Linked DNA regions of Homo sapiens. The protein of the gene in region 2 binds, or shares a complex with, the protein of the main gene of each other region. Each region holds a gene or a part of one and is shown on either strand. Other genes may lie near its edges. A codon is read from its position in the direction of its gene.

Region 1 (15,405 bases), on a different chromosome or scaffold from region 2:
AGTCTCGCTCTGTCGCCCAGGCTGGAGTGCAGTGGTGCCATCTCGGCTCACTGCAAACTCTGCCTCCCGGGTTCACGCCATTCTCCTGCCTCAGCCTCCCGAGTAGCTGGGACTACAGGCGCCCGCCACGACACTCAGCTAATTTTTTGTATTTTTAGTAGAGACGGGGTTTCACCGTGTTAGCCAGGAGGGTCTCAATCTCCTGACCTTGTGATCCACCTGCCTTGGCCTCCCAAAGTGCTGGGATTACAGGCGTGAGCCACCGCGCCCGGCCGAGAGCCGTTTCTAAAGCGGAGGGAGTGGGGACCAGGGAACCCCAGCCCTTGCTTTGCTGAAGGCGGGCTGGCCTTCTGGGTCTCTTGGTAGTTCCTGGGGAGGCCCTATTCACTCAGAATTATTATTATTATTTGAGACAGAGTCTCACTCTGTCGCCCAGGCTGGAGTGCAATGATGTGATCTCGGCTCACTGCAACCTCCACCTCCCGGGTTCAAGCAATTCTCCTGCCTCAGCCTCCCCAGTAGCTGGGATTACAGGCATCCACTATCACGCCTCACTAATTTTTGTATTTTTAATAGAGACAAGATTTCACCATGTTGGCCAGGCTGGTGTCAAACTCCCGACCTCAGGCGATCCGCCCGCCTCAGCCTCCCACAGTGCTGGGATTACAGGCGTGAGCCACCGCGCCCGGCCATTCACTCAGGATTTTTAACACACAGGCCTCACCACCAAAATCCACTTCCCCTCTTCCCTCAGGACTCCCAGAGTCACCATGCTTTGCAGGTAGGGCTCAAACATCTGCCTGCAGGCCTTAGAATGTGCCTTTGGGGGCTGAGAGACCCCGGGTCCTCTCCAGAGCAGAGGCGTCAGGTTTCTCTGCATGACGGTGTGGGAGCAGGCAGTTCCGAGTGTATGAGCCTGCCAGAGCCACAGAAACAAATGACCCCAAATACAGTGGCTTTAAACAGCAGGAATGAATGCATTGCAGGGGCTCCCGCCTGGGATCCCAGCACTTTGGGTGGCCAAGGCGAGCGGATCACATGGATTACTTGCGGTCAGGAGTTCGAGAGCAGCCTGGCCAACATAGGGAAACCCTGTCTCTACTGAAAAAAAAATACAAAAATTAGTCCGGGTGCAGTGGCTCACGCCTGTAATTCCAGCAATTTGGGAGGCCAAGGTGGGCGGATTCCGAGGTCAGGAGACCGAGACCATCCTGGCTAACACGGTGAAACCCCATCTCTACTAAAAATACAAAAAAAATTAGCCGGGCGCGGTGGCGGGCGCCTGTAGTCCCAGCTACTCGGGAGGCTGAGGCACGGGAATGGCGTGAACCCGGGAGGCGGAGCTTGCAGTGAGTGGAGATCGCGCCACCGCACTCCAGCCTGGGAGACAGAGCGAGACTCCGTCTCAAAAAAAATTGAAAACTTACCGGGTGTGATGGTGCGCGCCTGTAGTCCCAGCTGCAGGCGCTACGTCTCCCTGGGTGGCAGTGGCGAGTGCTGAGTAGGAGCAATGCCCTGCCCTGCTGCAATGGCAGGGAAGGGTGGGGGACTCCCCGGCTGTGACCTCACTCCAGCGGGCATGCTGATTGGCCCACCCGCGGTCTCTGGCCACCTGTTGCCGTCCATCACGGGGCCACCCTCCCCATCCTCCGTCCTGTCCACAAGGCTCAGCAAAGCGGCTGGCGGGTAAGCGAGGCTCGGGGGTAAGGAAGTGAGGCTGGGGGAATCCCGGGCAGAGGTGTGGGCTCCCGGGGTGTGAAGGGGTGTTGCAGAGGACTGTAAGGGTCCCCAATTCCTGGAGCTGCCCCCATGCACACCCAGGGGCCACACACCAGCCTCCCATGCTTCTTGGGCCCCTCCCCCACTGCCACGCAATAGGCCCCTTCCAGGTCTTGGAGCCCCAGGGCTGGGTGGTTTTTCAGCCTAGATACAGGGACACCCTAATCCCAGCAGCCAGAGGCCATGGGGACCCTGAAGAGTACAGCTTTGGGTCTGACTTGAAGCTCCTTGCGACCTCCAGCCAATGGCACTGTCTCTAGCCTCGGTTTCCTCATCTGTCCTATGGGAACAGAGTTAGTGGGACAAGGCAGGGTACTCTGTGTCAGGATCAGAAGACCCCCAACCACAACCGGGACCCTCCTCCCCTGCCCCGGCCTGTCACGACCAGAGCCAGGATGGTTCTGCTGCTGGGGCCTGAGCCTGTAGACTCACAGGGTCACGCAGCAGGATGTGGGTGCCCAGAATGGCAAGTCAGGGTGGCCCAGAGGGAGACCCCATGAGAGCAGAGGCCTGGGAGGGGCTGGGGCACCTGTTAGCCTGTCCCGCTGGCCTCAGGCACCAGATAAAAATAGTCCCTGGTCTCAGAGAACATGAGCTGACTCTGGGGCCAAGAGTTTCGGTTTGGGGTGCGTCTGGGACTCATTGCTGTGTTGTCCTGCAGGGGCTCCCGCCCTCTCTGGGCCAGAGCAGCCTGGGCTACTGTACTGATGGATACTGGACCCCAGTGAGGCTGGGCGGTAGGGAGGGGTCCCAGGGCAGGCATGCGGGGTCAGAGAGATGCCTGGAGTGGGCGCCGGGCCATGCCTGGCATGAGTATGAATTTGCCGAGTGAGGAGGGGTGGGAGGACGGGGCCTGTTAGTTGGTGTCCGCAGAACCTCCAGGTCAGGCCCAGGCCTGTGGCAGAGACTCAGTAAATGCAAGACCTTGTTCCCCACCCCTCCCAGCCTGGCCTGGGACCTGCTGCTGCTCCAGCCATGTCCATGACAACCAGAGCCTGGGAGGAGCTGGATGGCGGCCTGGGCAGCTGCCAGGCCCTGGAGGACCACTCTGCGCTGGCCGAGACCCAGGAGGACAGGGCTTCAGGTACCCTTGTGGCGCTGGCGGGAGGAAGCCCTTCCCTGATGGTCCCCTTGAGCCAGGAGGCCCATCTTCAGAGACTAGAGCTTCTTAGCCTCCCACACTGGACTGGCTTATAGTGTGCTCCCCATGTTCAACCCCTGGCCCTCATTTCTGCCTCAGGGGTCTGTAAGGAGCCCCCAAGGAAGACAGGTGCTGGGCCACACAGATCTAGGTTCGAATCCCACGTTGCCACTGAAATGCTGGGTGTCTTTGGGCAAAGCTGTCTCCAAGCCTGTCTGCTTTCTTTATATTTTTATATATTTTTATTATTATTTTTTGAGACAGAGCCTCATTCTGTCTTCCATGCTGGAGTACAGTGACATGATCATAAGTCACTGCAGCCTTGACCTCCCAGGCTCAAGTGATCCTCCTGCCTCAGCCTCCCAAGTAGCTGGGGCCACAGGTGCAGGCCACCATGCCTCGCTAATTTTTTTTTTTTTTTTTTTTTAGAGATGGGGTCTCACTATGTTGCCCAGGCTGGTCTCAAACTCCTGGGCTCAGGTGATCCTCCCACCTCAGTCTCCCCAAAATGCTGGATTCCAGGTGTGAACCACTGTGCTGGCCTCCACCTACTTTCTTATCTATAAGATGGGGTTAGTCACCCGCACGTCACCCAGCAGGGCCAGGGGAGAGGGTGGGATTGGCCTGGGGGTCCCCACAACCTTGACTCTGCCTGTGTTCCCACAGCGACACCCAGGCTGGCCGACTCCGGCAGCGTGCCCCACGTGAGTAGCTGGGACCCTCAGCCTTTAACCCAGGACGCCTGGGGAGTTGGGGACAAGCCGACCAAGGGAGGCAGGTGTCTAAAGCCCACGGGAAGGGTTTGGCACTGGAAGGAAACATGTGGAATGTCTCGTGATAACCACAGGACTCTCAGGTGGCTGAAGGCCCCAGTGTGGACACCAGGCCCAAGAAGATGGAAAAAGAGCCTGCCGCCAGGGGGACCCCAGGAACGGGGAAGGAGAGGCTGAAAGCCGGAGCGAGTGGGTTTGCAGGAGGCATGGGTGAGGTGTGGGGTGGGAACGGACTGGTGTGAGGCTCAGGTGCCGGAGCTGGGTCCTTGGATCTTGGAGGGTGGTGTCCTGGTTGAGTGGCGTCGAAGTGTGGCAGGCAGCGAGTCAACGGGCAGGGAGCCTCTACTAATGCGTAATAATACCAGCTATGCCACTCAGCTCCGGGAAGTTACCTTCCAGAAACTCTAGGCATCCCCGTGCAGCTGCGGGGCACCCGGGGCTGGGTTCACCTGCGCCCGGGGCCGCACAGGCAGGCAGAGAGAGCCGGGTTCAGGGCACAGGCCTGTCTCTTGTCCCCTGCGCCCGGGGAAGGGGGCGGCACAGAGCCAGTGACCACAGCGCAGCGCGCACTTGCCCCCGCAGGCCCTCGGAGCGTCCCCGCGCGCAAGAAGGCGCAGACCGCGCCGCCCCTGCAGCCGCCGCCGCCGCCCCCGGCCCTGAGCGAGGAGCTGCCCTGGGGAGACCTGTCGCTCAACAAGTGCCTGGTGCTCGCCTCGCTGGTGGCGCTGCTGGGCTCGGCTTTCCAGCTGTGCCGCGGTGAGCGCAGGCTCCCCAGAGGTGGGGCGAGGCTGGGGTCCACCTGTGCGCCTATTCCTCCAAGGAAAGGCGCTGTGCCGCCAGGGTGGGGTCTGGGAGCCTCCTCTCCAGGGCTGGGTCTTGCACGCCCCCAAAGTTGGTTTGTGCATCTCCCCTTAAGTGACGGGCCTTGCGCGCCCCTCTCACCCGGTGTGGACCTTTTGCGGGGCCCATTCCCCTCGCCGCGAGTAGGTTCTGGCTTCCGGATGAACCTTGTGCAACCCCTCCTGCCTCGTAGCGTTCTGCCGCCTTTCCCCTGCGCCCTCTCTGGGGACCGCTCAGCTCGTGAGCGCCCCCCGGGGGCACTCCTGCGACCCCTCCCTTGCTAGGGGCCTCCTACAGCCCGTGGTCGGGGGGAAGAATGACCAATTGAAAGAGCGAGGTTCGGAGAAGGGGCGCCGCGGCAGCGGAGTCCCGGAGTCCCTTCCCACGGCTCGGGGGCATCCTTAGTCTCAGCCGTACCGGGGGAGCCCCACTCCAACTGTCCAGGGAGGGGGGCTCTAGGGGTGAGGGAGGGATGGACAGTGTGGACCGTGCCTCGGCCCAGCTGACTCGGGTCCCGACCCTGTCGCTGCAGACGCCGTCCCTGGGGAGGCAGCACTCCAAGCACGTGTGCCCGAGCCCTGGGTCCCGCCAAGCTCAGCCCCGAGGGAGCCATCGTCGCCCCTGGTAAGAGCTTCCTTCCACTGACCGCGGGCATTGGGACCTTCATCCCCAAGGAAAGAAGGAGCCCGGGCCGGGGGGAAGGTGGGCGCTTACCCCAGGACCCCACTCTGTCTTGCAGCCTAAGTTCGAGGCCCAGGCGCCTCCATCAGCGCCGCCTGCGCCCCGGGCCGAGGCAGAGGTCAGACCCAAGATTCCCGGGAGTCGGGAGGCTGCAGAGAACGACGAAGAGGAGCCCGGCGAGGCCACCGGAGAGGCCGTCCGGGAGGACCGTGTGACCCTCGCAGACCGGGGACCCAAGGAGAGGCCTCGGAGAGAGGGGAAGCCGCGGAAGGAGAAGCCGCGGAAGGAGGAGAGACCTAAGAAAGAGAGGCCGCGGAAAGAGGAGAGGCCACGGGCCGCCAGGGAGCCCCGGGAAGCCCTACCCCAGCGCTGGGAGTCACGCGAAGGGGGCCACCGGCCGTGGGCACGGGACTCCAGGGACGCCGAGCCCAGGAAGAAGCAGGCCTGGGTGTCCCCGAGGCGTCCCGACGAGGAGCAGCGGCCTGGGAGTCGCCAGAAGCTCCGCGCAGGCAAGGGGCGGGACTGAGCCGGCCCCGCGCCGGAGTCCAGGGGCCCCTTCTGGACGCCCCGCGACTCTGGCGAAATAAAGCGAGTGCTGCGGCCGCAGAGTCACCTGCTCCTTTACGCCTGGACCCGGCACCAAGTCCGGGGCCTGAAAGACGGTGGTGGGGCGCTTCAGGCAGGGGAGAGACAGCGAGCGCTACAGGGCGGACCCGGGCCGTGCGCGAGGAGAGACGGCAAGGGAGGTCCCACGGGCCCCCTAACACGCACGGACACCCCAGCCGGTTGCTTGCTGGTCTTTATTGGGGCGATGCTTGGGGTCCGAATAAATATGGGAAGGGGCGCGAGCTGGGGCGCGTCCGGACCCTCGGGGCAGGAGTCCGCGCGGCGCAGGGGTCACCGGCAGCCACACTCGGTGGCCACCATGTTGGGCACGTGGTGCGCGCTGATGCGCTCCTCCGACAGGCTGATGAGCAGCTTGCCCGCGTAGGCGGTGGGCACGCAGCAGGGTGGGCGCGCCAGGGCGGCCCCACGGACCTGCATCTTCAGCAGCAGCACCACGTGGTTGCCGTAGCGCGGGTTGCGGTCGGACTGAGGCCAGCCGCACACGCCCTGGCAATTGTTGGCCTGGTAGGTCTCGGGGATGAGTACGGAGCGCTCGGCGCGGAGGTCTACGCTGAGCTCGCGCAGCGCGCACGGCCCGTCGGCGGCGGTGGCCCCCGCGCTGCGCTGTGCCCGACCCGGCCCGCGCGGATCCCGCCCGCGCCACTCCACGCGCAGGCCCTGCAGCGCCTTCAGGAGCAGCAGCGCTCGCAGGGGATCGCCGAGGCCGCCGGGGCCACCTGGGCAGAGCGCGAGCAGGCGCGCCAGCAGCGGGGCTGTGGCCGGAGGCAGACCCGGGAGGCTTCGCAGCTCGGCAGCCGCCGCTTGCAGTTCAGCAGCCACGCGGCGCGCCAGGGCCGTGGCCCACGGCGCCGACGTGGGGTCGTGCAGGGGCGCAGGATCCCCGGTGGTGGCCGCAGTGGGCCTCAGCAGCAGCAGCAGCGGCTCCTCGCCGTCGAGTAGGCGCTCCAGCGCCGCGGGGTCCGACAGGTTGACTAGGCCCTGCGGGAAGCCGGCCAGCGCGTCCGGATCCAGGGCCAGGCGCGGCGCGGAGGCCCGGGCCGGGGGGACCCGCAGCGCCCGCACCAGGCGCGTGAGCGTCTCCAGGAAGGGGTCTGCGCTGGGTGGCGACTCCTCGAGTTCCGCGGATGGCCTGGAACCCGCAATTGGAGGAGTTGAGAGCGGCCACGAGGCCACGCCGCCCCCGCCCGCTCCTGCCCCGTGTCCCGGTGCCTGCGCGCACCTGGGCGGCGGGAAGGGCACGGTGTCCAGCTGGCCGTGCGCAGGCAGCGGCGCGGGCTCGGACCGCGGCAGCAGGAGCAGGGCCGGGGTCATCCGTGTGAAGCAGCGGTGGTCGTCGCCGAACAGCAGTGCCTGCAGCCGGGCGGTACTCAGCCGGGAGTCTGCGGTGGGTGGGCACGCGGCTGGCTCAGGGGCTGGGGGCCCGGGGGCAGTCGACCCGGCTCCCCGTCCCTCTCCACGCGGACCTACCCTCTCCGCGGGGCTGCAGGGTCAAGGCCAGCCCGGAGCCGCGCCAGGCCCCCGCAGGGCGGTCCACCGCTAACACCAGGTAGCGGGTGTCTCGGGAGGGGCAGAGGCTCTGCGGAGACCAGGGCTCAGCCCGGCTGGATGGAGGCTTACCCAGCCCCGCTCTACCGGTCCCCTTCCTCCCATCGCCACTGGTTCTACGCTGTTCTCAGTACTGCAGACCCTGCAACAAATCCATGCCCCCCGCCACGGCCCGGGCACTGCCCCATGCAACTCCCTGGTACCTGGGCACCCGGCAGCCCAGCCCTCGTCACAGTGACCTCAGGGCCAGGCCCAGGGTACAGCACCAGCAGCGCCAGCTCTGGGGGGCCAGCTCCTCCAGGCGGGGGCTCCTGGAACCTCAGCGAGGGTGTTGGCTCCCAGGTCACTGCAGCCGGGACAGCAGGGGACGCCTGAGCCATTGAAGGCCACACCCCCCGGGAATCTTTGGGATCTGTCCCTGCCGCTCTGGCCACTGTGCAGGGGACCTCAAGCGGGGGACAAGGGTGCCCCTCTTAGCTGCCTTCCTGCAGCCAGGGAGCGGTGACGGCAGGGGCAGGCAGGGGCTGCGTCTGAGGCTGTGGGTGGGGCTGCCGCCCTGGGGTCTCTGGGTTGGGGTGCCCGATGAAGCCCCTTCCCCGCAGGGAGTATCTTAGGCCAGCGGCCCTGAGAACAGGCTGGGGCTGTGGGAAGAAGGGTTCCACTGGCCCCGAGCCCTGCGTCGTCTTCAGGGGTGGGGAGAAGGCAGCAGCTCTCTCCCTGGCACCGAGGCAGGGGCAAGTCTAAGAGCTGGGCTTCGGGGACAGGACAGAGTGTGGTGCCCACCTTCCAGGCCACGGACCCGCAACCCAGTCCTAGGAACAAGACCACAGCCTCCCTGCCCAGGGTGGGGGCTCTGCCAGCCCCTGATCTTCCCTAGGAGGACCCGGCCCACCTGAAGGAAGACGGCGGTGCCAAGCTTGGGGCTGGGCCCCACATACCTTCCTCCAGGTGTAGGACCACCAGGCGCTGCCCCCCAGGGTCCCGCAGCCAGGCCCCCAGCCGCCGTAGAGAGGGCAAGGCAGCCTGCCTGTCACCGGTGTTGCAGACCCCGAAGGTGGCCAGGTCTCGGGGGCCCCAGCGGGCCCTCTGCACGGCCCCCAGGAAGGCCTGCTCATAGGCGCTTAGAGCCCCCACCACCCGCAGGGGGGAGCTGCTGCCATTGCTGTCCCCGCCCAGTGCCACCAGGCACAGAGGCTCTTGTGGGCTGCCTGGAGGCCAGTCCAAGTCTTCTCGGAAGATGAGGCCACTGGTGCCCACAGCTGGCTCCTCTGCTCTGAGGGCCTCAGTCCCCAGCAGAGCCCCCAGGGCAGACAGCACTAGGGCCAGGCTGGTGAGAGGCAGGTCCCGCATCGTGGGTGCTGCCAGGGGCTGGGCTGCCTGCCTTAAGTGAGCCGAGTGGAAGGTGGGGTGTTTGTGCAGGACAGACCCCTATCTCCTCTGCCGCGACCTTGGGGGACAGTGCCCGGCGCCCCCACTCCAGGCAGAGTGGCCTTCTCAAAGAGCCCTTTCTGTCCCTGGCAGCCTATCTCCCTCCCCAGTGATAGAGCTGGGCCTGATGTGTCAACATGCCGTCCTTGAGGGCCATCCCCAGAAGACACAGGAGTGGGAACCAGGCTGGGAGTGACGGCCAGGCAACCAAACTAGACAGCGCTGGGGGCGGGGGGCCCAGATGTCCTGGGTGCTGAGGTGTGGGCCTGGAGGAGGAGGGTCCCAAGTCAGTGGGGGCGCCCTGTCCCTGCTCACCCTCCCCACCCCTGGTGGGCTATCTGGAGACCCCAAGGATATCGTGGAGTCTGCTCTTCCCTCCCCAGAACAGGACCCCAGATCCCCTCCTAGCTGGCTGGTGGGGTCTGTCCTCCACCAGGCCATCTCCAAGGTACAGCCATCTCTCAGGCCTCCCACAGGTGTCTCCTGGCGGGCCCCAGGCCCTCCCCAGTCGGCCCAAACTGGGGGATGGTGCTGTGCCTGGCACTCCCACACACACTGACACAGTAGGGCGGCGCTGCGGACATCAGTGCACTCAGGGCTGGGGGAGGCTGTTTAATGAGCGGGGGGCAGTACAAAAGAGCAGCCTTCTCTCAGTGGGAAAAGGCAAGAGCACCTGGCGCTGGGCTTGCTGGGGGAGGGAGCAGCTTCTCAGTTGGTTGGGGGAGGGGGAGGTATGTTCCCTGGGCCTTCGGAGGGAAGTGGGGGCCTCAGCATTGGGGGCATGGGAGTTGGGGGGTGCACCCCAGGATTTGAGGGGTGAACTCCCGGAGGCTGAGGGTGGACCCCAGGAGCCGACGGATGGACCCCGGGAGGTTGGGGGTGGACCCCCGGGGCCTGAGGGTGCATCCCTGGGGCTGGTGGGTGCACCCCTGGGGCCTGAGGGTGAACGGCGGGGGCTGCTGGGTGCACCCCCGGGGCCTGGGGGTGAACCCCCGCTGATGGGGGAGGATGGACCCCTGGGGCTGGTGGGTGAACCCCAGGGGCTGGTGGGTGGACTCCGGGGGCTGGTGGGTGAACCCCGGGGGCTGGAGGGTGGACTCCAGGAGCTGGGGGGTGGACCCCAGAGGTTGGTGGGTGGACCCCAGGGGCTGGGGGATGGACGCCAGGAGCTGGGGGGTGGACGCCAGGAGCTGGGGGATGGACCCCAGATGCAGGGGGATGCACCACTGGGGCCGGGGGGTGGACCCCTGGAGCTGGCGGGGGTAGCTGGGGTGGTCCCGGGGGCCCTGAGGGCGCAGGCCCTGTGGGGGGCATGGGTGGCAGAGGCAGGCCTCCTGGCGGGGGCGGTGGCAAAGACTCAGGCAGCGGTGGCCGAGGGGGCAGACCGTTCATCAGCGGGGGTGGAGGCCGCTTCACCCCAGGGGGGCCAGCAGGGAGGCTGGGTGGAGCCGGGGGCTTCTCCATCTTAAAGTGGAACTGGAGGAAGAACTAGAGAGACGGAGAAAGGTTCAGCAGGCACGGGTGGGGCTAGGGCAGGGCTAGGGCCGCCAGGGCTGGGTGGGAAGGAGCCAGGCTCGGGGCGAGCCACTCACCTGCTTGGTCTCCCGGTTCCAGTGTGTCCAGAACTTGCCCTCCGCCTTGTCGATCTCTCTGCTCGGCACCTGGGAGGGCGGGGGACAGAGAGGGCTCCTGGTCCCTGTGACCTCAGGGCGACCATCAGGCAGGGAGCCCGAGGCACTAGCCTCCCCAGCCCGGACTCTACCCTGGGAGCCCAGGAGAAGGCTGGTAAGACTTTCGTGGGGCACAGGGTTCAGTTCTGGAGTGAAACAGACCTGGCCTCAATGCTAGCACGCTGTTGGCCCCCTCCCTGGGCAGTCACCGTTTGTATTATTTGTTTCCTGATGGCCGCCCTGTCCAGGCATGGGGACAGGCTGTAGGAAGCCCTCCAGCAGCCTGGCCCAGGAAGTGAGGTCACTTGGCAAAGGCCTCACAGGCCTGGCGCTCAGCCCTGCCGGCCTCCCTTCTCATTGGCCCAGTGGAGCCCAAGCAGGCCCTCCTGCAGAGCCCAATGGGAGAGGTGCCCTGCCCGGCCTGTGCAGACCCTTCTGGCTCCGACTTGGGGGGGGCCCAGGGGACCCCAAGCCCGATGGGAGGGGCATCCTGCCCAGCCTATGCAGATCCTTCTGGCTTGCACATCTCAAGGGGGCCCAGGGAACCCCGCAGCCACGCTACCTTGAAGGCAATGGTCTCGTAGGGCTCGGCGGCCATGAGCAGGTACTGCCAGCGCCGGTCCGGAGGCTCGATCCTCTGCTCGTACGCAGACATGAAGCGGTGACGTGGCATGATGCCCTCGGCGATCTCAGGGTAGTCAATCTGCAGGGACACGGCCGGGTGGCAGAGCCGCCTCTTGGGTGCCTTTGGCCGCCCCCCACGCCCAAGTCCCTGATCTCACCTGGAAGAGGAGGCTCTGCTGGCCCATCTCCGAGTCTCTCTGCTTGGTCACTGCAACACAGAAAGCTCTCAGGTCCCGGCTGCTTGTCCTCTCCGAAGCTGAGGAACCTGGGGCAGGCTAATGCCACCCACTGAACGAGAGCGGGACCCCGGGGGAGGCCCTGCAGCTCTGGCAACCATTAGACAATCTCCGCCCAGGCTCTGGGATTCTGGTATAGGTGAAGGCACAGGTGCGCCAGAGCTGAGCTACCTGCGGAGTCACTCAGGCAGGGACCGAGGATGGTGCTCCTTTGTCCCAATCCCCAGAGCCCTTCACCAGGGGTGCTGGGATACCACCCAGCAGGAGTTGGGGCCACTGGGTAGGGAGGGGCCCTCGGCACCCTGGCTCTGGGATTCGAGCGGGGCCGCCTGAACAGGGCTGACACCATGTATACGGTGAGCGAGAGAGGATGCCCTTCCCGCCAGAGCTCAGCAGCCTGGACCCCGAGAATGGCTGCTGGGCTGCCTGCCGCCCGGCCACTCTCCATGCGGCCTCAGACACGCACACTCACAAGCCCTCTGCCGCCTCACCGTCCTGAGCCCAAGCCCAGGACCTGTCAGGGCCTCCCCACCAGGAGCCTGCCGCTCTAGCCACCCTCGCCCACCCGGTGCACCTGCCCCGGGACCTCTGCCCTGCAGGCTTCTGTCTGGAGGCCAGGCACACAGGCTGTCCCCGCCTTCTGTAAAGAACACTTGCTGGGTAGCGTGCCCGCCTTCCTGAACCCTATGGACACAAGTCTCTATCTTCCACCCTGGTCACTTCCCCAGCTTTCTGAACCGGGGTCACCTCTAGCCATTCCCACTGCTGAGGGTCCGGGAGGAGCTGCCTCTAACAGCCGCTTCTCCCTGTCCTCCTTCAAAGGCTTCAAGGTTAACCGGAGGGATGTGCCAGGGCTCACCACACCTCCACTTCCACTCTTTTGCTTGGCAAGAATTCCCAGAAGCTTCCACAAGACCCGGACAGGAGGGCACAGACTGTGGCTCAGCTGGGAAATGGGCTGCTGGGTGAGATGGGTGCTTATCGGGCCCAGCCTGACAGCTCCCAGACACAACGCCAGAGGCTGCAGGTGGGTGAGGGACGGCCACCAAGGCCGGAAAACAGTGGCTCAGGGAGGAGGCTATCAGGGCTGCACCTCCCGCACTGGAGACTAAAGAACACACTTATGTCACGGCAGCGGCTGTGGCCGGCCCCGCTGCGGGCAGACTCACCTTTGTAGCCCGGGCGGCCGATCTTCACAAACTTCTTCACCTCCACCTTGACCTTCTCAGGCGCGGGCTGGGCAGGGGCCTCCTTGGCCTCCTTGGCTGCTCGCCGGGCCCTGCGGACAGGATGGAGGTGCTGCTGGGACCCCTCCACACACAGGCACCAAAGCCATGGGCCCAGGTGCCAGGAGCCCCCTGACCTTGGAGCTCACTACAAGCTGAGAGATGAGGAGGGCCAGGGGCCTGGGAGGGGCCCTGGGGTTTGGCTGAGGACAGGGATAGGACAGGCATGTTCTCTTCCTGTCATGCTCCTCACTGTCCCTGGCTGGGGCCCTTCCAACAACTCCATGCCTCTGCTCTTTTTTTTTTTTTTTAATAAGACAAGAGTCTCACTCTGTCGCCCAGGATGGAGTACAGTGGCAGCACCTTGGTTCACTGCAATCTCTGCCTCCCAGATTCAAGATTCTCCTGCCTCAGCCTCCATAGTAGCTGTGATTACAGACGTGTGCCACCATGCCTGGCCTAATTTTTGTATTTTTAGTAGAGATGGAGTTTCACAATGTTGGCCAGGCTGGTCTCGAACTCCTGACCTCAAGTGATCTGCCCGCCTCAGCCATCCATGCCTCTGTTCTCTAATGCTCCCCAGGAACCGTACTCAAGCGCCCAGGGAGGCTCAGGCCAGGCTGGCTCCCCGGCTGTGGAGCAGTGGCCCGCGAGGCTCACAGAGACTTGAGCCAACGGCTGCTGGAGCACCAGGCATCAAAGGGACATGAGGTACTCACAGGTTGGTCTGGTGCTTCTTCCCCTGCGTATGTGCCAGGTAGCTCCCCTGGAGTGGAAAGGAAACACGCATGACTCGAGGCCGGGCGGACAGACACAGGCAGGTCCCCCTGACGTCAGCCACTCAGCCCGCCGCGAGCCGCCCGGAGCCAGGCAGAGGCCGCACCTCATTGTTGTGAAGTGTCAGGCAGAGTTTGCATTCATAGGAGCCCAGGTGGTTCTTCATGAAGTACGGGTCCTGGAGGGGAAGAACAGGGGCCCGTTAGACAGAAGATCGCGGCCTGCTGCCGTCAAGGCCCTCAGAGGCGGGATCCCCTTTCTGTAGAGGCATGGAGGCAGAACCCCCCTTCTGTAGAGGCATGGCTACCGCTGACAGTGGTCAAGCATTTCTGAAAACGGGGGATCCAGCGGGAGGCCTTCGTGAGCACGGGTGTCACCACCTGGGGCTGTGGGCCAGGCTTCGAGCAGTGGGGGTTCCCAGGGAGCCCCCGACACCACCTTCCTGGTGGTTCTGAGTCAGAGGGAGGCACAGCCAGGACAGCACCGCCGGTCACTCCCGAGGCAGGGAGCCGTCCACTGCCCACGCCACCACGCCAGCAGTAGGCACAAGGCAGACACAGGCACAAGAAAAGCAAATGGGCTACACTGAAGACCCAAAGACCCGCCCATCTGCAGGCCCTAAGCTGGGGCAGCCGGGCGCACACATCTCGTCTCAGACGCTGGAGTTCAAAGTCTAACTCCACCATCTGCGGCTGTGGCACCCCCTCTACCCATGACCTCATCTGGAAGACGGGGACGGTAACAGAGCCCTTGCCATAGGCCAGGCCCGTGGGGCATGTCAGGGTACACAAAGAGTGCTCCAGCCCCGATGTCCACGGTGCTGAGGGGACTCGGCTCACCCCTGCCTCTGCACAAGCTAAAATCAAAGGCTGCCCTTCACCACATCTGGCTGGACTGACATCAGCTCTCCCCACTCCCAGAAAATTAAATAATGCAAAACAGAAGGCTGTGGACAGAACAAAACATGTCCACATGGGACTCAGAGCCACAGAGGGTCTGCTCTCTGGGGTGGACAGATGGGAGCTGTGGCTGCTCGGGGGCAACAGGGGAGCGTCTGGACACGGGGCTGCATCGCCCAGCCTGGGCGGAGGCCCAAGAAGAGCCTCTGGCACCCTCTCCAGGGCTGCCCTGGAAAGCCCAGCACCCACCACAGGCAGCTGCACGGTGGCTGGCCCACCTTGTTGATGTCGATGGTCTCCAGGGCCAGCTGCCGGAGGCGCTCCCTGCGGTCACGGTTGCTCTCGGAGGAGGAGGCCACGCCCCCGCTCCCGGTCTTGCCCCCGGGGCGATGCTGGAAGTCCATGGTGATGGCCTTAGGGCTTTAGCAGACTGGGAGACACCTGTGGAGGCCAAGAGGAGAGTGAGGAAGATGGCTCAGAACTCGGGGCTGCTGCTGGGACCTCCCTGGGCGGGCTGGGCTGGAGCCCTCGAGACTGCCCCTCACCCTGCACTCCCAGCGCCAGGGTCTAACCAGCCCTGAGGGGGCCACCCCATAGCGCACCCAGTCTCTTCCAGGAGGCTGAGGCCCACTGTGGACAGGCACAGACACAAGGAAGCTGGAGCCTGTCTCCAAGTGACCAGGCATGAGGGATGGAGAGGAAGCCGCTCCAGCCCAGGGTGCCAAGGCCTGGAGACCTGAAATTGTAATAGGGAGCCCAGAGAAGGCATAAAGGGAAGACAAGACCAAGATCTCACAAACGAGTCACCACCTCCAGGAAGCCATCCCGGACTGCCCAAGCCCCTAGTGTTCACGCCTTCCTCTGAATTCCCTCTCTGGTTGGCTACGCTTACTTGTCCCAACCTAATCTCTTGGGCTCGATGTAAATTTGTTAGGCGGAGATCAGTGAGGACACTGATCTTCGCATCCTCACTGAGTAACACCTGGGAGATCTGCCACATCTGCTTGTGGCGCAGGGGGCTCTGCTGAGTCCCCAACATCCTCTTCCTGATGCAGGCCTCTGCCAAGGTCTCCCACGCCCTTTCAGGCTCTGTGCAAATCTGAGTTCCAGGCAGCCTCCTCTCATCTCCTGGTAGTCTTTCCCTTGCCTGCTCAATGTT
Region 2 (12,901 bases):
CAAAAATTAGCTCAGCATGGCAGTGCACACCTGTAGTCCCAGCTACTCAGGAGGCTGAGGTGGAAAGATCGCTTGAGCTTAGGAGGTTGAGGCTGCAGTGAGCCGTGAGCATCCCACTGCACTCCAGCCTGGGAGACAGAGCGAGACCATGTGAAAAAATAGTAACAGGCTGGGCACGGTGGCAGACGCCTGTAATCCCAGCACTTTGGGAGGCCAAGGTGTGAGGATCACTTGAACCCAGGAATTCAAGAACAGCCTGGGCAACACCGTGAAACCCCACCTCTACAAAAAACAAAAAATTGGCTGGGTGTGATGGCACATGCCTGTGGTCCCAGCTACTTGGGAGGCTGAAGTGGAAGGAGCACCTGAGCCTGGGGAGGTCAAGGCTGGCAGTGAGCCAAGATTGTGCCACTGCACTCCAGCCTAGGTGACAGAGTAAGACCCTGTCTCAAAATAATAATTTTTATTTATCTTTTTTATTACATAAACAATACATGTTTATATATTTTTATTTTATTTTGGTGGGAGGACGGAGTCTTGCTCTGTTGCCCAGGCTGGAGTGCAGTGGCACAAGCTTGGCTCACTGCAACCTCAGCATCCCAGGTTCAAGCGATTCTCCTCCCTCAGCCTCCCCAGTAGCTGGGATTACAGGCGCTTGCCACCACGCCTGGCTAATTTTTGCATTTTTAGTAGAGACGGGGTTTCACCATGTTGGCCAGGCTGGTTTCAAAATCCTGACCTCAAGTGATCCACCCATCTTAGCCCCCCAAAGTGCTGGGATTACAGGTGTGAGACACCGTGCCCAGCCAAAAAAAAAAAAAAAAAAATTGTTAAAGAAATATCTTCAGGCACAGCCCTCCAAACTCATTCGTATTCATTCAACAAATAAGTATGAACTATATGTCAGGCACTATGCTAGAGGCCACAAAAAACACACAGTCCCTCTTTTACAGATTTTATAGACTAGCAGGGGAGACAGAAATGGATCAAGTAAACACGAGTGTCAAATGTCAAGTGTGCTAAGTGCTAGGAGAGAGGGCCAATGAACTATAAGAATAATAAGATGTGACTTGAAGGGGAGAGCAATGAGCAACAAGAAGAGGAAAAGGTAGGCAGAGGCCAGCCACACCAGGCCCTGTGGGCCTGTTAAATATTTGGGGCTTTTTAAGTTTTCATACCATTTCCCATCTGCTTCCTGCTAGGCATTACGCTACCCGCTTTTTATTTTATTTTATTTTATTTTATTTTTTAGACAGAGTCTCATTCTGTTGACTAGGCTAGAGTGCAGTGGCACAATCTTGGCTCACTGCAGCCTCTACCTCCTGGTTTCAAGCAATTCTGCCTCAGCCACCTGAGTAGCTGGGATTAAGGCGTGCCGCCACTACTCCTGGCTAATTTTTGTATTTTTAGTAGAGACGGGATTTCACCCTGTTGGCCAGGCTGGTCTCAAATTCCTGACCTCAAGTGATCTGCCTGCCTCGGCCTCCCAAAGTGCTGGAATTACAGGCGTGAGCCACCCCGCCCGGCCATGCTACACGCTTTAAACACATTTCCAAACTTACCCTTCACAAACACATTATGAGATAGGAATGATTATCCACATGGGGCTCAGAAAAGGAAAGTCATTTGCCCAGAATCTATGTGACTCTAGAGCTGGCTCCTCATCATCGTGTCTATTGCCTCCTGTTTACCCCTCCATCAGGACTGTGTGTGTCTCTGTCCACGTGGAAGAGCTCCCCACAACTCACTTTGCCCTATTGTAAGTAGTTCAACCTCCACCACCTGTTTCAGAGCCCAAATGCAGTGGCTCTTCCCTGAACTTTTTCAGCACCTACAGCTTCTGTACTTCTGAAATCTTGAATGATGGAAAGTCCCTTCTTTGACCATATACCTCCTGGCCCAGCTCAAAAATCACTGTTTTTTTGTTTGTTTAATTTCTCTGACTTCTCCAGGCAGGGTTAGTCATTCTTGCTTTATGCCCCTTGGCACTCGGTTAATTTTCCTATCTTGGGGTTTACTGCATTCTTTATCTCTTACCTTCCCTGAGCCATCTTGGTGCCTGAACACAGTTCGTGGCCACCGAAGGTGCTCGATGACACTTGTTGAATGAGGGGTTCTATTGCTCCCTTCCCTCCAATTCCCACTTGCCCTCCACCTGCTACTCTGTTATCTACTGGCTCTGCCCGTCTATGTGTACACATGCCTGACACCTCAGACAAGGTGACTCATGAAGGATGCCCCTGACTAGCTTGCCCTGCCTCCTCTGTTACTGTCTTTGCCGCATGTCTTCTGAGTCAGTATAAGGTGGTGGTTATTAGTAAGTGATCCTGAGTCAGACTGCTTGGATTCAAGCTCCACTCCTGCCTCACCGACTGACTTCAAGAGAGTTTCCTTAGTTCTGTAAGGAAAAGCTCTTCATCTGTTAAATGGGGGTGTGACAGGAGCACCTACCTTCTAGGGTTTTCACAAGGATTACAGGAGGCCACATCCACTGGGTCTGGACCACAGTAAGTGCCCAGTACCCTTGATCTAGAGTTACTATTTTTCATGTCAATTGATGCACAGTCTTACTCCTCTACCTATTGTCTTGGCCAGCATCCATCAGTGTGTCTGTCTGCTGGGGAGATGCAGGGAGAAGACTGTCAATTGATCTCTGCTCCCTGGGATGGATCAGCCGTCTCCAGCTTTGTGTACCATCCTTTTCTCTCTGCGTTTCCCCAGGGCTCCCTGTGCCACTACTTGACCCAGTACACCAGTGACTGGGGAAGTTCCCTGCGGATGGCACTGTCCCTGGCCCAGGGCCTGGCATTTCTCCATGAGGAGCGCTGGCAGAATGGTGGGTGAGCTGGGCATAGGAAGTCAAGGGAGCCACAGTGCTATGTTTGTGATTCTGCCTTAGTTTGGAGGGGAAAGATTGGGTCAAAAGAGGGAGGAAGAGCCGGGCACGGTGGCTCACGCCTATAATCCCAGCACTTTGGGAGGCCGAGGTGGGCGGATCACAAGGTCAGGAGATCGAGGCCATCCTGGCTAACATGGTGAAACCCTGTCTCTATTAAAAATACAAAATATTAGCCGGGCGTGGTGGCATGTGCCTGTAGTCCCAGCTACTCGGGAGGCTGAGGCAGGAGAATCACTTGAACCCGGGAGGCGGAGGTTGCAGTGAGCCGAGATCGCGACACTGCACTCCAGCCTGGGCGACAGAGCGAGACGCCGACTCAAAAAAAAAAAAAGAGGGAGGAAGAAAATCCATGTTCCTTCAACCTTGGATTCCCCCACAGGCCAATATAAACCAGGTATTGCCCACCGAGATCTGAGCAGCCAGAATGTGCTCATTCGGGAAGATGGATCGTGTGCCATTGGAGACCTGGGCCTTGCCTTGGTGCTCCCTGGCCTCACTCAGCCCCCTGCCTGGACCCCTACTCAACCACAAGGCCCAGCTGCCATCATGGAAGTGAGTTCTCTGGATAACTGGTGAGGCCCAGGATGATGTTGGTGCTGCTGATGGCAATGCAGCCATTGTGTGTCAACAGTTGTAGCAATACCTATAGCATTTGGGACATTGCTGAGTCTGTAGTTGGGGGGATATTGCATGGACCATTGCTGCAATGAGGATTGCCACAGAGATGATTCTTGGCCCTTCGTGCCTTGCTCTCCAGGCTGGCACCCAGAGGTACATGGCACCAGAGCTCTTGGACAAGACTCTGGACCTACAGGATTGGGGCATGGCCCTCCGACGAGCTGATATTTACTCTTTGGCTCTGCTCCTGTGGGAGATACTGAGCCGCTGCCCAGATTTGAGGCCTGGTAAGGATGGGTGGTACAGTCCCCTCTCCTGGGCTCCCCCCCGCCCATTCTAGGTTCACCCCAACCTGACCTGGCCTGAGAAAGCTCTGCTCTTCCCTGTCTTGCCCTTTCTACATGGTAGGCACCCCTAGGACTAACTGATACCCAGCCCCTCTACCTTCCTCCAGACAGCAGTCCACCACCCTTCCAACTGGCCTATGAGGCAGAACTGGGCAATACCCCTACCTCTGATGAGCTATGGGCCTTGGCAGTGCAGGAGAGGAGGCGTCCCTACATCCCATCCACCTGGCGCTGCTTTGCCACAGTAAGAGGCCTAGGCTGTTGGTCTGGGAACCTGGAGAGTGGGGGCTGGGCATGGGCTTCAAGGACGTCTCTGCCAGAGTGTCTGTCTACTCCTATCTCCACTTATCTCCCATCACTCCTTGGTTCATGCTCAGCTGGAACTGGGCAAGCCTCCTCTCCCCGTCAGTTCATCCTCTTCCACCCTAAGTCTCACACAGTCGATTCCATCTACCTGAGACACACACCTTCCTCCTGCTCAACCTTGCCCAGCCTGTCTCTCCTCTCTGCCATCAGTTAGCCCTGTTCCTCAGTCCCCTTCTCCAGGAAGCCCTCCTTGGCTTTGCTCTTGCCCTGAGCTCTGCCCCATCTGCTCTCCTAATACAGTAAAGCCCAAAAATCAATTCAATAAGTCCCCATTCTGTCATACATTGATGATGTTTCTGCTGTGACCCAATAAAAGGCAGTTCTAGGTATAAAAGGTGAAAGCAGTGGCGTCACAGTGAAAGTTCAGGGCTTTGCACAAATACTTTTTTAACAAAATGTCCCTTCTGTACCTGATCTGAAATTTCCACGGCACAAGTCTTAGGTTGGCTGACAGAAACTGGGCATTACTTGCAGAAGACTCTGGCTCTCTGAGAGGAAAGAGAGTAATTTCCCATTAGCATATTAAGCTGTCAACCTACATTAGCTCCTCAGAGGAAACAGTGGGCTATACAGAAGGCCCCCAGAGAGCCTGTTTCATAGGGAGCAAGACTCAGAGGGCTGGAATTCAGCAAGAGGGAGAGGAGGGAGGCTCCAGGAAAGATCAGAAGTGGATGTTGAAAGCAGGAGAGTGATGGACACTGAAGATGGCTTTTAACCCTGGGGCCCACTCAAGATCCTAGGGTCAACCCTTCCTCCCTGTCATTCCCCCCAGGACCCTGATGGGCTGAGGGAGCTCCTAGAAGACTGTTGGGATGCAGACCCAGAAGCACGGCTGACAGCTGAGTGTGTACAGCAGCGCCTGGCTGCCTTGGCCCATCCTCAAGAGAGCCACCCCTTTCCAGAGAGCTGTCCACGTGGCTGCCCACCTCTCTGCCCAGAAGACTGTACTTCAATTCCTGCCCCTACCATCCTCCCCTGTAGGCCTCAGCGGAGTGCCTGCCACTTCAGCGTTCAGCAAGGCCCTTGTTCCAGGAATCCTCAGCCTGCCTGTACCCTTTCTCCTGTGTAAATATGCAGTTTATGTGTCATCAATGTACATGCCAACATAAATATGGCGATTGTATAGCTGTCTTGTCTGCCTCATCACTGCATTTCCCACCTGCCGAATCCTTGGATTCTTCTGCGGGCATCCAGTCCACATCAGTTCTGACCAGTGACTTGGGGTAGGTGTGCACAGGAAAGAGAATAAAGTCAGCTTTCCTGATGCATATCCTTGGTCCTTCCTCTATTCCTGTAATCCAGGGACCCTCTTGTCTCTCTTCTTTTCCACTAACATTTATTTTTATTTATTTATCTGGTTTCTTTTTTTGGAGACAGAGTCTCTGTCCAGTCTGGAGTGCAATGACACGATCACGGCTCACTGCAGCCTTGTCCTCCCTGGGCTCTTGTGATCCTCCTGCCTCAGCCTCCTGAGTAGGAGGGACCACAGGCATGGACCACGATACCCAGCTATTTTTTTTTTTTTTGAGACAGAGTCTCACTCTGTCACCCAGGCTGGAGTGCAGTGGCACAGTCTCGGCTCGGTGCAAGCTCCGCCTCCCGGGTTCACGCCATTCTCCTGCCTCAGCCTCCCGAGCAGCTGGGACTACAGGCGCCCACCACCACACCCGGCTAATTTTTTTTATTTTTAGTAGAGACGGGGTTTCACCCTGTTAGCCAGGATGGTCTCCATCTCCTGACCTTGTGATCTGCCCACCTCGGCCTCCCAAAGTGCTGGGATTACAGGCATGAGCCACCGCGCCCCACCTGATTTTTTATTTTTTGTACAGGTGAAGTCTTGGTATGTTGCCCAGGCTGGTCTCAAACTCCTGAGCTCAAGCAGTCCTCCTTCCTCAGTGTCCCAAAGTTCTGGGATTACAGGCATGAACCACTGCACCCAGCATTTTAAATTGTTTATTATTTTTTAAATTTTATTTATTTATTTATTTAGAGACGGGGGTCTTGCTCTGTCGCCCAGGCTAGAGTGCAGTGGCACGATCTTGGCTCACTGCAAGCTCCGCCTCCTAGGTTCATGCCATTCTCCTGCCTCAGCCTCCTAAGTAGCTGGGACTACAGGCGCCCGCCACCACGCCCAGCTAATTTTTTTGTATTTTTAGTAGAGATGGGGTTTCACCATGTTAGCCAGGATGGTCTTGATCTCCTGACCTTGTGATCTGTCCGCTTCAGCCTCCCAAAGTAAATTGTTGATTATTTTTATTTTTATTTTTGAGATAAGCTCTTGTTCTGTTACTCAGGCTGTGATCATAGCTCACAGCATCCTTGACCTCCTGGGCTCAAGCGATCCTCCCAGCTCAGCCTCCCAAGTAGCTGGGACTACAGATGTGTGCCACCACACCTGGCTAATTTTTGTATTTTTTCATAGAGACAAGGTTTTTCCATGTTGCCCAGGCTGGTCTTGAACTCCTGGGCTCAAGCGATCCACCTGCCTAGGACTCCCAAAGTGCTGGGATTACAAGTATGAGACACCACACCCAGCCTCAACATTTATTTTTAAAGGTGGGATCTCATGGTGGGCACTGGGGAAAGAAGGGTAAAGACAACAAAATCACTGCCCTAACAGTGCTTAAAGACCTGCACACCACATTGTTGGGTTCCTGTACGCTGTCCTGGGGGTAACAGGAGAGACTTGAGCAGGAATGCTTCACAGAGCACAGGATGCTTGAGCTGTGTCTTAACTGAGAGGAGTTTCCCAGGAGCATGTTCTTGTCCCTTTCTGTGACCCAGCTCTCATCCACATCCAGTCAGTTCTCAAGTCCCACTGAGGCAGCCTAGGCAGGGGCTACTTCTCCTTTTTCTTTTCTTTTATTTTTTTGAGACGGAGTCTCGCTCTGTTGCTCACGCTGGAGTACAATGGCGGGATCTCAGCTCACTGCAACCTCTGCCTCCCGGGTTCAACTGATTCTCCTGCCTCAGCCTCCCAAGTAGCTGGGACTACAGGCGCCCGCCACCACGCCCAGCTAGTTTTTTGTATTTTGTAGTAGAGACGGGGTTTCACTATGTTGGCCAGACTGGTCTCAAACTCCTGACCTCGAGATCCACCCGTCTTGGCCTCCCAAAGTGCTGGGATTACAGGCATAAGCCTCTGCACCTGGCCTTCTTTTCTTTCTTTTTTTTTTTTTTTTGAGACGGAGTCTCACTCTGTTGCTCAGGCTGGAGTGCAGTGGCGCAATCTTGGCTCACTGCAAACTCTGCCTCCCGGGTTCATGCCATTCTCCTGCCTCAGCCTCTGGAGTAGCTGGGATTACAGGCGCCCACCACCACGCCCAGCTAATTTTTTGTATTTTTAGTAGAGACGGGGTTTCACCATATTAGCCAGGATGGTCTCGAACTCCTGACCTCAGGTGATCCACCCTCCTCGGCCTCCCAAAGTGCTGGGATTACAGGCATGAGCCACCGTGCCCGGCTCTTTTTCTTTCTTAATCAACCTACATCATACTTTGATGGGCAGGGCCTGCTTCTGGGCACCATCCCTCTTTCCTTCTTCCTAGGCCTGGCAGGGCCCAACTACTACAGTTACCCCTTGGTAGGTTATGTTTCCCCTGATCTAGGCTAAACAGTACTCTTTGGATATTCTTTATTTTTAAAAGAAATTTTTTTTCAGATGGAGTATTGCCCAGGCTGGAGTGCAGTGGTCCGATCTTGGCTCACTGCAGCCTCCATCTCCCAGATTCAAGCGATTCTCCTGCCTCAGCCTCCCAAGTAGCTGGGACTACAGGCATGTGCCACCATGCCCGGCTAATTTTTGTATTTTTCATAGAGACAGGTTTCACCATGTGGGCTAGGCTGGTCTCAAACTCCTGACCTCAGGTGATCCATCCACTCTGGCCTCCCAACGTGCTGGGATTACAGGTGTGAGCCATTGCACCCGGCCTGGATAATCTCCTAACTTTCATTATGTCTTGCCTCTGCTCAACAGTGTTCTTGGGTTTTTCATGACAATCCTGTGAGTACCATTTACAGAGGAAGAGGGCTCAGAGAAATTTAGAAACACATCTAAGGTCACACAGCTTTTAAATAACAAAGCAAAGACTTTCAGCCCTTAAAAATGTTTGGCTGGGCACGATGGCTCACGCCTGTAATCCCAACACTTTGGGAGGCTGAGGAGTGCGGATCACCTGAGGTCAGGAGTTCTAGACCAGCCTGGCCAACATGGTGAAACCCCATGTCTACTAAAAATACAAAAATTTGCCAAGTGTGGTGGCACGTGCCTGTAGTCCCAGCTACTCAGGAGGCTGAGGCAGGAGAATGGCTCGAACCTGGGAGGTGGAGGTTGTAGGGAGCCGAGATCGCACCACTGCACTCTAGCCTGGACTCCGTCTCAAAAAACAAAACAAAACAAAAAAAACCTGAGCCCAGTGGCACGCGCCTGTAATCCCAGCACTTTGGGAGGCCGAAGGGGGCGGGTCAAGAGTTCGAGACCAGCCTGACCAACATGGTGAAACCCTGTCTCTATTAAAAATACAAAAGTCAGCTGGGCGTGGTGGTGCGCACCTGTAATCCCAGCTACTCAGGAGACTGAGGCAGAATTGCTTAAACCCGGGAGGTGGAGGATGCAGTGAGCTGAGATGGCACCACTGCACTCCAGCCTGGGCAACGGAGCCAGACTGTCTCAAAAAAAAAAAAAAAAAGAAAGAAAGAAAGAAAAAAAGAAAAGAGTGTACAAACATGCTGATGAGCATAAGGCTATGTTCAATCAAAAGTAAATCTATGGGCTGGGCGTGGTGGCTCACACCTGTAATCCCAGCATTTTGGGAGGCCGAGGCAGGTGGATCACCTGAGGTCAGGAGTTTGCGACCAGCCTGGCCAACATGGTGAAACCCCGTCTCTATTAAAAATACAAAAATTAGGCTGGGCACGGTGGCTCACCCATGTAATCCCAGCACTTTGGGAGGCTGAGGTGGGCTGATCACGAGATCAGGAGATCGAAACCATCCTGGCTAACATGGTGAAACCCCATCTCTACTAAAAATACAAAAAATTAGCTGGCTGTGGTGGCCGGCACCTGTAGTCCCAGCTGCTTGGGAGGCTGAGGCAGGAGAATGCATGAACCCGGGAAGCGGAGCTTGCAGTGACCCGAGATTGCGCCACAGCCTGGGCGACAGAGCGAGACTGTCTCAAAAAAAAAAAAAAAAAAAAAGGAGATTGCTTAAAGCCAAAAAATATAGGTTATAATCTTGTCTCTCCTAACTGTGAACTCTTAGAAAAGTTTATTTTTCTCAGGAAATTGAATGAATGTTTCTCTAAGTCATTTCCAACCCTATAGTTCCATGATTCTGTGATAAAATGATAAAATATGAAAGTCCCAATTGTGAAGATGAGTTTACCAAATCCAGTGTTTGCCTAATGTGATATTCCCATGAGTAGTGATTGCATGCTTGTGGAGAAGTATTAGGCATGTAAATACACTTTTTAGAAACTGGGCCCGGTGCAGTGGCTCACGCCTGTAATCCCATTACTTTGGGAGGCGGAGGCAGGCAGATCACCTGAAGTCGGGAGTTTGAGACCAGCCTGACTAACATGGAGAAACCCCGTATCCACTAAAAATACAAAATTAGCCAGGCGTGGTGGCACATGTCTGTAATCCTAGCTACTTGGGAGGCTGAGACAGGAGAATCGCTTGAACCTGGGAGACTGGGGTTGTGGTGAGCCGAGATCACGCCATTGCATTCCAGCCTGGGCAACAAGAGCGAAACTCCATCTCAAAAAAAAAAAAAAAAAAAAGAAAAGAAAAGAAAAGAAAAAGAAATGTCTGGAGTAGGCAAACTTTTTTTTTTTTTTTTTTTTTGAGACAGAGTCTTGTTCTGTTGCCCCCAAACTGGAGTGCAGTTGTGCGATCTCGGCTCACTACAACCTCTGCCTCCCTAGTTCAAGGGAGTCTCCTGTCTCAGTCTCCCAAGTAGCTGGGATTACAGCGCATGCCACCATGCCCGGCTAATTTTTGTATTGTTAGTACAGATGGAGTTTCACCACATTGGTTGGGATAGTCTCAAAATCCCAACCTCGTGATCCACCCGCCTGGTGACCTCCCAAAGTCCTGGGATTACAGGTGTGAGCCACCGCACCCGGCCAATACTTTTTTGAAACTTGATAATCTTCCAAGAAAGAAACAATGTGTATATCTAAGTTTCCTAGAGTTTAGAAAACCTTCCAAATTATTTCAAGTATTTTGCACAAACCTAATATAAAAATATATCAAAATGTAGTATTTGTTTGTTTTTGTTTTGTTTTTTTGAGATGGAGTGTCCCTCTGTCACCCCGGCTGGAGTGCAGTGGCATGATCTTGGCTCACTACAAGCTCCGCCTCCCAAGTTCATGCCATTCTCCTGCCTCAGCCTCCTGAGTAGCTAGGACTACAGGCATCAGCCACCACGCCCCTCTAATTTTTTGTATTTTTAGTAGAGACAGAGTTTCACCCTGTTAGCCAGGATGGTCTCGATCTCCTGACCTCGTGATCTGCCCGCCTCGGCCTCCCAAAGTGCTGGGATTACAGGCGTGAGCCACCGTGCCCAGCCTGTTTGTTTTGAGACAGGGTCTCATTCTGTGAGTGAGACTGGAGTTCAGTGGCATGATCTTGACTCACTGTAACTTCTGTCTCCCAGGCTCCAGTGATCCTACCACCCCAGCCTCGTAAGTAGCTGGGATTATGGGCGCACACAACCATGCCCAGCTAATTTTTCTATTTTTTGTAGAGACAAGATTTCACCATGTTGGCCAGGATGGTCTCGAACTCCTGAGCTCAAGGGAATCCACCAGTCTCAGCCTCCCAAAGTGCTGGGATTACAGGCATGAGCCACCCCACTCAGTCAAAAGATAGTCTTGTTATGTAAGATACTATCACTGGGGGAAGCTGGGTAAATTTTACAACTTCTTGTGAGTCTAAAATTATTTCAGAATAAAAGAACACTGTCTAGGCAATACCACTCAGGACATAGGCATGGGCAAAGATTTCATGATGGGATCACCAAAAGCAATCGCAATAAAAGCAAAAATTGACAAATGTGATCTAATTAAACTAAAGAGCTTCTGCACAGCAAAAGAAACTATCATCAGAACAAACAGGCAACCTACAGAATGGGAGAAAATTTTTGTGATCTGCCAAAGTGTCTAATATCCAGAATCTAGAAGAAACTCAAACAAATTTACGAGAAAAAAACAACCCCATTAAAAAGTGGGCAACGGCCAGCCTCCCCGTCCGGGAGGGAGGTGGGGGGCGGCCCCCGCCCGGCCAGCCGCCCCGTCCGGGAGGTGGGGGGTGCCTCTGCCCGGCCGCCCCTTCTGGGAAGTGAGGAGCCCCTCTGCCCTGCCGCCACCCCGTCCGGGAGGTGTACCCAACAGCTGATTGAGAACGGGCCATGATGACGATGGCGGTTTTGTCGAATAGAAAAGGGGGAAATGTGGGGAAAAGATACAGAAATCAGATTGTTGCTGTGTCTGTGTAGAAAGAAGTAGACATAGGAGACTCCATTTTGTTCTGTACTAAGAAAAATTCTTCTGCCTTGGGATGCTGTTGATCTATGACCTTACCCCCAACCCGGTGCTCTCTGAATCATGTGCTGTGTCCACTCAGGGTTAAATGGATTAAGGGCGGTGCAAGATGTGTTTTGTTAAACAGATGCTTGAAGGCAGCATGCTCGTTAAGAGTCATCACCACTCCCTAATCTCAAGTACCCAGGGACACAAACACTGGGGAAGGCCGCAGGGTCCTCTGCCTAGGAAAACCAGAGACCTTTGTTCACTTGTTTATCTGCTGACCTTCCCTCCACTATTGTCCTATGACCCTGCCAAATCCCCCTCTGCGAGAAACACCCAAGAATGATCAATTAAAAAAAAAAAAAAAAAAGAGATAGGAAAAAAAAAAAAAAAGTGGGCAAAAGGCCAGGTGCGGTGGCTCACGCCTATAATCCCAGCACTTTGGGGGGCCGAGGCGGGCGGATCACGAGGTCAGGAGATCAAGATCATCCTGGCTAAGAGGGTGAAACCCCGTCTCTACTAAAAATATAAAAAATTAGCCAGGCACGGTGGCGGGTGCCTGTAGTCCCAGCTACTCGGGAGGCTGAGGCAGGAGAATGGTGCGAACCTGGGAGGCGGAGCTTGCAGTGAGCCAAGATCGTGCCACTGCACTCCAGCCTGGACAACGGGGCCAGGGCGAGACTCCGTCTCAAAAAAAAAAGGGGGGGGCAAAGGACATTAACAGACATTTCTCAAAAGAAGATATGCAGCCGGCCGGGCGCGGTGGCTCACGCCTGTAATCCCAGCACTTTGGGAGGCCGAGGCGGGCGGATCACGAGGTCAGGAGATCGAGACCATCCCGGCTAAAACGGTGAAACCCCGTCTCTACTAAAAAATACAAAAAATTAGCCGGGCGTAGTGGCGGGCGCCTGTAGTCCCAGCTACTTGGGAGGCTGAGGCAGGAGAATGGCGTGAACCCGGGAGGCGGAGCTTGCAGTGAGCCGAGATCCCGCCACTGCACTCCAGCCCGGGCGACAGAGAGAGACTCCGTCTCAAAAAAAAAAAAAAAAAAAAAAAAAAAGAAGATATGCAGCCAACAAACATGAAAAAAAGCTCAACATCACTGAACATTAGAGAAATGTAAATCAAAACCATAATGAGA

What was found.
Region 1: the proteins of AMHR2 (region 2) and AMH are in contact, whole or in part, in a crystal structure (PDB 7L0J), measured with the Homo sapiens proteins. Residues at the interface, in NP_065434.1 of Homo sapiens: Gly31, Val32, Arg33, Gly34, Ser35, Thr36, Thr38, Leu39, Phe62, Ile64, Glu75, Met76, Arg80, Asp81, Ser82, Glu84, Pro85, Ser95, Arg97, Ala98, Pro100, Ser101, Leu106, Thr108; in NP_000470.3 of Homo sapiens: Leu471 (codon at 6,384), Arg472 (codon at 6,381), Glu474 (codon at 6,375), Val477 (codon at 6,366), Leu478 (codon at 6,363), Ile479 (codon at 6,360), Pro480 (codon at 6,357), Glu481 (codon at 6,354), Thr482 (codon at 6,351), Tyr483 (codon at 6,348), Gln484 (codon at 6,345), Lys534 (codon at 6,195), Leu535 (codon at 6,192), Ile537 (codon at 6,186), Leu539 (codon at 6,180), Glu542 (codon at 6,171), Arg543 (codon at 6,168), Ile544 (codon at 6,165), Ser545 (codon at 6,162), Ala546 (codon at 6,159).

The regions. Positions count from the first base shown.
Region 1 is NC_000019.10:2,242,664-2,258,068, reverse strand, and holds AMH (muellerian-inhibiting factor preproprotein), read right to left. Parts: upstream 8,747-15,405; 5' UTR 8,737-8,746; coding exon 8,325-8,736; intron 7,733-8,324; coding exon 7,590-7,732; intron 7,431-7,589; exon of another isoform or gene 7,418-7,430; coding exon 7,309-7,417; intron 7,221-7,308; coding exon 7,061-7,220; intron 6,971-7,060; coding exon 6,112-6,970; 3' UTR 5,996-6,111; downstream 1-5,995. Other genes in the region: JSRP1 (junctional sarcoplasmic reticulum protein 1), read left to right, coding at 2,755-2,863, 3,587-3,624, 3,768-3,882, 4,276-4,449, 5,066-5,157, 5,273-5,740; SF3A2 (splicing factor 3A subunit 2), read right to left, coding at 9,523-10,302, 10,407-10,475, 11,047-11,187, 11,267-11,316, 12,514-12,623, 13,290-13,336, 13,454-13,525, 14,525-14,650. UniProt on the Homo sapiens protein: Plays an important role in several reproductive functions. Induces Muellerian duct regression during male fetal sexual differentiation. Also plays a role in Leydig cell differentiation and function.
Region 2 is NC_000012.12:53,426,175-53,439,075, forward strand, and holds the end of AMHR2 (anti-Muellerian hormone type-2 receptor isoform 1 precursor), read left to right. Parts: intron 1-1,702; coding exon of another isoform or gene 1,703-1,759; intron 1,760-2,721; coding exon 2,722-2,836; intron 2,837-3,278; coding exon 3,279-3,451; coding exon of another isoform or gene 3,452-3,471; intron 3,472-3,656; coding exon 3,657-3,804; intron 3,805-3,971; coding exon 3,972-4,108; intron 4,109-5,002; coding exon 5,003-5,299; 3' UTR 5,300-5,498; downstream 5,499-12,901. UniProt on the Homo sapiens protein: On ligand binding, forms a receptor complex consisting of two type II and two type I transmembrane serine/threonine kinases.